Homo sapiens: one gene and its partner. The protein of the gene in region 2 purifies or fractionates together with the protein of the main gene of each other region. This does not show direct contact. Each region holds a gene or a part of one and is shown on either strand. Other genes may lie near its edges. The genes, in order: SETX and ANKRD10.

Evidence for each region.
Region 1: the proteins of ANKRD10 (region 2) and SETX purify together in Homo sapiens (affinity purification with mass spectrometry; one large-scale study listed by BioGRID and IntAct). This does not show direct contact.

What each region holds. Positions count from the first base shown.
Region 1 is NC_000009.12:132,295,919-132,299,740, forward strand, and holds part of SETX (probable helicase senataxin), read right to left. Parts: intron 2,395-3,822; coding exon 2,162-2,394; intron 1,137-2,161; coding exon 969-1,136; intron 111-968; coding exon 1-110. UniProt on the Homo sapiens protein: Probable RNA/DNA helicase involved in diverse aspects of RNA metabolism and genomic integrity.
Region 2 is NC_000013.11:110,890,862-110,894,683, forward strand, and holds part of ANKRD10 (ankyrin repeat domain-containing protein 10), read right to left. Parts: intron 3,533-3,822; coding exon of another isoform or gene 3,487-3,532; exon of another isoform or gene 3,342-3,486; coding exon of another isoform or gene 3,248-3,341; exon of another isoform or gene 2,403-3,247; coding exon 2,167-2,402; exon of another isoform or gene 1,831-2,166; intron 1-1,830.

The DNA of each region.
Region 1 (3,822 bases), on a different chromosome or scaffold from region 2:
ATTTTTTTCATGAGTTCATCAACAGCTGCATTGGAAGGTGCACACACGAGGACACGGTTTTGTTTGATTTTGGCATTGGAGTTTTCGTCTGAATGCCCCTTCCTCTGGTTCTACAATTTGCCACATATACATACCAAACAAACACACAAAAAATATGGGTGAGCTCTATTACATAGCTTTAAAGTTTGTCTTTACTTCCATGTATTTTTGAAAGTTCTCGTAATAAAGTTAAAAATAAATAAAAGCATCTACATCTAACACTGATATTTAAAATTACTCCAGCAAAAAAATTTGTCATAACTGCTCTGAGCCTTACTTTATCATCCACTTACTTTAATGAATACTCAATCCAAGCCAGGCACAGTGGCTCACGCCTGTAATCCCAGCACTTCGGGAGGCCGAGGCGGGCGGATCACTTGAGGTCAGGAGCTCGAGACCAGCCTGGCCAACATGGCGAAACCCCATCTCTACTAAAAATACAAAAATTAGCTGTGGGTGGTGGTGTACGCCTGTAATCCCAGCCACTAGGGAGGTACTCGGGAGGCTGAGGCAGGAGAATCACTTGACCTGGGAGGCAGAGGTTGCTGTGAGTCAAGATCGTGCCACTGTACCCTAACCTGGATGACAGCGAGACACTGTCTCAAAAAAAAAAAACAAAAAACCACAATCCAACCAAAATGCAGCCCAGCATTCACAGCATTCTACGTGACCTACCGTGAAGCCTGAAGACCATCATTCTAGTCCTTACGATTTGTTTCACATAAGATAGTGGTTTTTTCCTCTTTTTATTTCCCATAACCTTCCCTCCCTCTGCCACCCTTTTCTCTGACACAGTTACACACAATATAAAAAATATATACAAATCAAAGAGGAAATGGCATGTTAATACTTATTTACATGTCAGTTAACTCAAGTAAAGTAAAATGATACAGCTAGTTAACAGCATCAGTGCCCTCACCCATACCTACCTCTGTCAGTAGACGATAGAGGAGGCCAACAATAGTTTTTGATTTTCCTGTTCCAGGTGGTCCATGAATCAAGCAGATTTTGGCAACTGATGGTGAGTGTTTCACCATAGCATATGCAGTTTCTATTGCTTTCTTTTGATCTTCATTGAAATCTCTTAAGTACGCAATCTATATAAAAAACACATTTTTGAGAATGAGTTGCTGTTTCTGTAGTGGAATTTGAAAGGAAGAACATGAAAAAGACCTGTCCAAATTTCTTTCAATGCATGAGACAAAAGCTTTGGTTATGGTCAGACAAGACAAGGACACCAAAGTGACCTTTAATCTAAAAAGCACGTTCACTACTGGAAAGAAAGCTAATTACTTACTAATTACTAATTAGTGTCTGTAACGCTTCAAGTACTTACAAATACAACTGTACTTTTATTTTTTATTCTTACAAAGATAATCACAATAAATTGCATTTACTAATCCACAACTTTTCTTCTATTTACTACTCTGTTTTTTTCCTTCTTTAGTCAATTTTCTCCTTAGTGAAAACATCCCAAGACTATTTATTTCCTAGCACATGTGATACAGTGGAAAAAGCATGTATGCCAGGGGAAGATCTGGGTGTAAGCTTCACTTGCACTTACAAGCTAGGCCACTACGCTCCTAACCCAAGCCTTGGCCTCTGTTACTCATTAAATCTAGGATTCCTTAAGAGGTGAGAACAGACTGAGATAATGCACATGAAAGCCATAGCATACAGCTCTAGAGTTTCTAAATAGTTAGTTTCCTTTTGCATTTCTCTGTTAACTTCCTAGAGTTTATACACAGCTTCACATGTTCAGTTGACAACTTCATCTTTGCATTTCCAACAATACCGGCCAATTCTCCATCAATCATTCAAATGTAAATTTAACACCACTAAACCTGAGACTTCTCACCTAATGCACATTAAGTAGGCTGCTGACCTAACATTTTAATGTTGCTCTTCCAGCAACCTTCGACGCTTATTGTACTGTACCTTTTCCTGAAGTGAGCTGACTTAACCTAAATTACATACTTTGCAATACTAAAGAAAACTAACACTAAACTGTTCACCGTGAACACATTTTTGTTGTAAACATATAGGAATACATAGCAGCTAAAAAATATGATGCTTTAACATCTTAACATGAAATTATCTAGTATCATACATCATCACTCACAATTCTCTCAGATGTTGTAGTCAGTAAATCTTTTGTACAGAAGTCCATAGGGTTTGGATTCAGAACAGCTCTAGCCAGTTGGTTCCGACTACCCAACAGAGACATGGCTTTCAACTTCCTTTGTGTAGTTACCAGAGAACTGATTACAATACAATTCACAAGTTCGTTTAAATTGGCCGGAAAGTTCTCTTGAGTCTGGATGGAAAGGTAACACTCAGTTTTCCCATTACGCACTATCATCAAGAAAGAGAAAAAGCAACTTCAGTTATCACTGAATAATGCTGCCTAGTTGTAAAGGTCATGCAGAATTAGGTATTTTTAACATATTTTTGGATATTATTTACATAATTTACCCAGTAAATATTTATGGACTGCTTCCTGAACCCAGTAATGTTCTGTCCTCCGGAGGCTTATTTTCTAGAAGATGGAGGCAGATAACCAAATAAATATGTCAGGTGGTAGTAAGTGCTCTGAAGAAAGCACACAAAGGGAGGAAGTGATGGGGATGGAGGCAGATAAGCTGGTCCGAGAAGGTCTTCCTGATGAAATATTTGAGCAGAGACTTGAAGTAAGGGAGTAAACAGTACTCAGCAGAGGGTAAATAGTACTACATGCAGAAAATAAGCAACTGCAAAGATCGTAAGACAGAGATGTGCCAGGAATATTTTAGAAATAGGGAGAAGGCTAACATGGATAGAAGGAAAAATAGGGAGAAGAACGCTTAGCGACTCAGAGTAAAACGGGGCTACATTTTATAGGGCTGTGCAGATCACAGTAATGACTCTGAACGCTATTCAGGATCAGGGTAGAAAACCATTGGGCACTCTGTGTAGGGAAATAACATGCTCTATCTCACAAACTAAAAGAACCACTCTTACCTCAGAACAAAGAATAACTACAATGAGAAAAGTACAGAAACAAAAAGACCACTTACAAGGTTACCATAGTAATTTAGGTAAAAGTTAATGACAGCTTGGACCAGGAGGCACTAGTAGACGTGGGAACTGGATTTGGGATATATTGCAAAGGAAAAATCAATCATATCTGCTGACAAATTAGAAGTGAGGTGTGAGAGAAAGTAAGGATCATGGATAACTCCAAGGTTTTTGGCCTGAGTAACTGAAAGAAGTGAGGCCCCAATTAACAAGATGGGAAAGAATGAAGGAAGTGCAGATGTCAGGCAGAAAATCAAGTGTTAACTTTTGGACTAGTGGATTTGAAATGTCTAACACATTTCCAAATGGAGGTATCCAAGACATGATTTTGATCTATGAGGAGTTCAGGGAATGAGACTGCCTTAGAACTATAAATTTGGCAAAGGTAATCATTTTCAAGAGCCAAAAGCACAGAGTAAGCCATCAATCCTCACTGCAACTCTTCTAAATGTATCCTATATTCTACAGAATTAAGCCCTGATCACACAAATAAACATGGTACACCTGTTATAATGCAGTACAATGTTGACACACTTTATTGCTATATTAATATATCATGCAAAAAGGAGAAGGAATAATGAAATAATGTTCTTCTCTTCACATAACTAAGACTAAAAAAGTTGCAATTGCCAAAAAGGCAGTTTGGCATAAGAAAAACAATGTGGACTTTGCAGTCAACAAAAGCAGGCTTCAATTCTGGACTTACCAATTAACACTGATGACAGC
Region 2 (3,822 bases):
CTTCTAAAGGAAGAAAATAAAACCCCCAAAGTCAGCAGGACTCTTTAAACCAAATTTATGTAGTTAACGAGGATTAGGAAACAAGGAATCCTCAGAAATGCTTTTCAGGGTAATTAAGCAATGTGGTATTGGCCAATTCAACTGACCTTAGAAACTCTGAGACTAGTTTTACGAACTCTTCTAGGTGCATTTTGAGTCCAATTAGCATGTTAAGTGATCTCTTTTTAAAAATACTAAACAGAATTTAAGATTTATCAGCAATAAGAGAAAATGAAGCATAAATCATTTTTCAAGGACATTTAGACTATACAGTGACATACAGGGACAGACATGTACAATTCGTGCATGAGGGCATGAGGCCACTCTACAATACTAACCAGGCTTTAATTAAAGGAAATGACAAAGGATTTTTTTAAAAAGTGGATGCTCTTAAAAAGGCGTTGAAACTACATTAGAAAAAATATATTAAAACATGGTACAAATAAATGACAATGCTGAATACATCACCATTAAAAAAGACCATTTTGAATTTTATGCAGATCTTCATGTCATGCTTATGATTTTAGCATCTTTCCAGAAATGCTTAACTCATAAAAATCTTGAATTTGATAAAACTGTTAAGTTCATACATTACTATAAAAAGTCTTATCACAGGAATTTTTATGGTGACAAGATATAGTTGTGAAGTACATAATACTGACATTTTATCAACTTTATAGGGAAAAAATGTTTCACTTGGACACACTCATTAAATAAGGTAGAAAAGATGATGTTGGTTCATGAAATTTAACCAAAATCTCTAGATTTTTAAGTGATTAACTGATAGTCACTCAGTTTTCCTTATGCTGTAACTTGCACGGTTGATTTTTTTAAACCAACGGGCAAAACTTTGTGCTTATACTCAGCAAATCTGAGCTCATAATCTGCTTCATTACTTCACACTCCCACCTCTCCCCCTAAGTTCACTAAATATGCCTGCCAAGCTATCACATTTACCTTCTTATTAAGACTTTTTTTTTTTTTTTTTTTTAAATAGAGACAAGGTCTCACTATGTTGCCCAGGCTGGTCTCGAACTCCTGAGCTCAAGTAATCCTCCTGCCTCAGCCTCCCAAAGTGCTGGGATTACAGGTATGAGCCATGACAACTGGCCTAAGACATCTTATATATAGATATAGATGATTTTCCTATAGGAAAGGGAGATGTTTTCAACTTCAAGAGTGACTGGCTGACTGCTTATTTGCAAACTCAAACCTACCTTAAAAACAAAAAACAAAAAACCCAAAAAACGGCTAGGCACAGTGGCTCATGCCTGTAATCCCAGCACTTTGGGAGGCCGAGGCAGGTGGCTTACTGGAGGCCAGGAGTTCAAGACCAGCCTGGCCAACATGGTGAAGCCCCTTCTCTACTAAAAATACAAATTAGCCCAGTGTGATAGCATGCACCTGTAATCCCAGCTACTTGGGAGGCTGAGACAGGAGAATTGCTTTAACTTGGGAGCCGGAGGTTGCAGTGAGCCGAGATCACAGCATTGCACTCCAGCCTGGGTGACAGAGCAAAAAAAAAAAAAAAAAAAATGGTGGGAGAATACTTACAACGAAAATAACTTACCTTAGGGACTTAAATCCTCAAGATCAAATTATACACCAGATCTTGCTGTGATAAGTCAACACACATGTGAGGTACAGAGACCACTGAGGTCAAATCATAGTACAGAAATAGTACAGAAAACATTCACCTTCCCGAATGTGAAAATGTTTTACTGCCAGACCATCAGCAATTTTTATAAGCCCAGGAACATTTACAAGAAGCAAATTAAAAAAAAAAAAAAATTCAGGCACAGTGGCAGATTTTCTTTAATAGATATATTTCAAACAGATACAACAAATTAAAAAATCTAATTCATGGCAGGTAAACATGGGTGCTCAAAAAGTTCCACATAGACATTTACACTTGGGCCATCAGTATTTCCCTCACATTCCCTTTTGTTAAGTCCCATCTTCGCAGTGGCAGTACAGGAGAAATCTCCACCGTCACCGCACAATCCACCAGGCGCATTACCACCTGAAGTGAAGGTCTCATCTCGAAGGTGCGCTCAGCCATAAAAAGAAAACATATTACAGAAAGGAAAAATAAGTGTGCTCTTCCCACCCGCAAAGCGGTCTCACCTTCAGTTCTAGCTTTCTTTACTCCAAAGTCTTCTGAGTCTTCCAAGCATCTCTTTCGATTTGTTCCCACACTAATATGATTAGGAAATACATTCTGATGACCCCCATTTAAGATGCCATTGTTATAGAAATGGTTCAGATGACAATTCTGGAGGTTCAAGAGAAACTGGGCACACTCTTGGAAACCCTGGGTTTGTGCAATGTCTGCTGCTGTCAGGCCACTGGCATTTCTCAGGCTGTACAACACAAAAACACTGAATTACACCCCATCCGCGTGCTAACCTGGTCTCTGCTCCTGCTGAACTGACTAGCTATCTGAAGGTGGTATGAAAGAGTAAACAAATTCATAGCAAATCTTCATTAAAGAAGTAGTTAATCAATCTAGCTCTGTAACTAACTTCTCTTATATACATTTGATTTCTAAGCAAGATTTGGGAGATAAACTAAATATGCTAAACTTCTAAAAAAGGCATCTTCCTATTTAACTTCTCAAAATCATGTTTTATGTTAGTCTGAAGAATCTAAATTTACGCTAACTTCAGACTTGAAACTGAATTCTATATTATATGCACTTAATTTTAATACCCATTCCTTTAGCGTGAATAAAATCATAACAAACAACATGTACTGAGATTGTCCATGGCATTCATAACTGTCTTCCTAAAAACAAAGCAATGGCTCACCAACGAGCCAGCCTTCATGCTTACATGTGACACTGTAAGTGGAAGTTTAGAAGGATGTCCTGACATTAAAAAGTAGCCTATCATCAGATTCCAGAGCTGAACAGCTGTGTTTTTCTGTCAGATTTTGATTGTTTTGGCCTTGCTTGGGAAAACCTGCAGGAGTATTGTATTTTTGGCATTGTAGAGCATTTGAGTAGTTGGTTCCTTTAAAAAGGCTTTGAATACTGTCCTAAAAACTCATCCCTACCACTCACAAGAACCAAAGTTTTACCTGGCTAATAGTACTAAAAAGGAAAGGTCTGAGACCTCTACAGTAGCTAAAACTCAGATTCAAGTAGGAAGTGATGGCAGAGTAAGTGAAAGAGCTGAATAAAATAGAGTAAGTTGAACTTGTAAACCTTTAGACACTGAATTAAAACTGAGGGATCAAAAGTAACTCCATGTTGAAGTTCCCCTGGAAGACAAGAATGTACACTGCTCTGTGAAATAAACCTGTAAAAAAGCAGACATCCTGTTAGCTGCAGGTTGATAAACAAACGGGAGAAGTACTTAACAGCAAAGACAGCTTCCATACCTGTTCAGCAAGCTACACTACATCCACAGCAAAAGCATGATGAAATCAAGGCCTTGTGCTGTGTCACTCAAACAACCACTCCAGAACCCTGATGCCTTTCTTGGGGTTACTGTTAATGCAAAAAAAAAAAAAAAAAAAAAAAACCCCGCATTTGAGAGTGAAAACTACAGAATTAGGGACAAATAATATTTTCTTATTTATAAGGACTGACAATAGCCTTGTATTCGTTATTTGCAGACATCATAGAGCTCTGACCTTGGAAATGAGAAGTGTGCATGGACACTAGCTAAGCGTCTCTACTTTTTAAAGCATAAGATAAATGCATTACACCTTTTGAAAAAAGACCCAAATCCTATCTGATCAGAGATAAAAGAGAATTGAGAATCTCAGAAACCAACA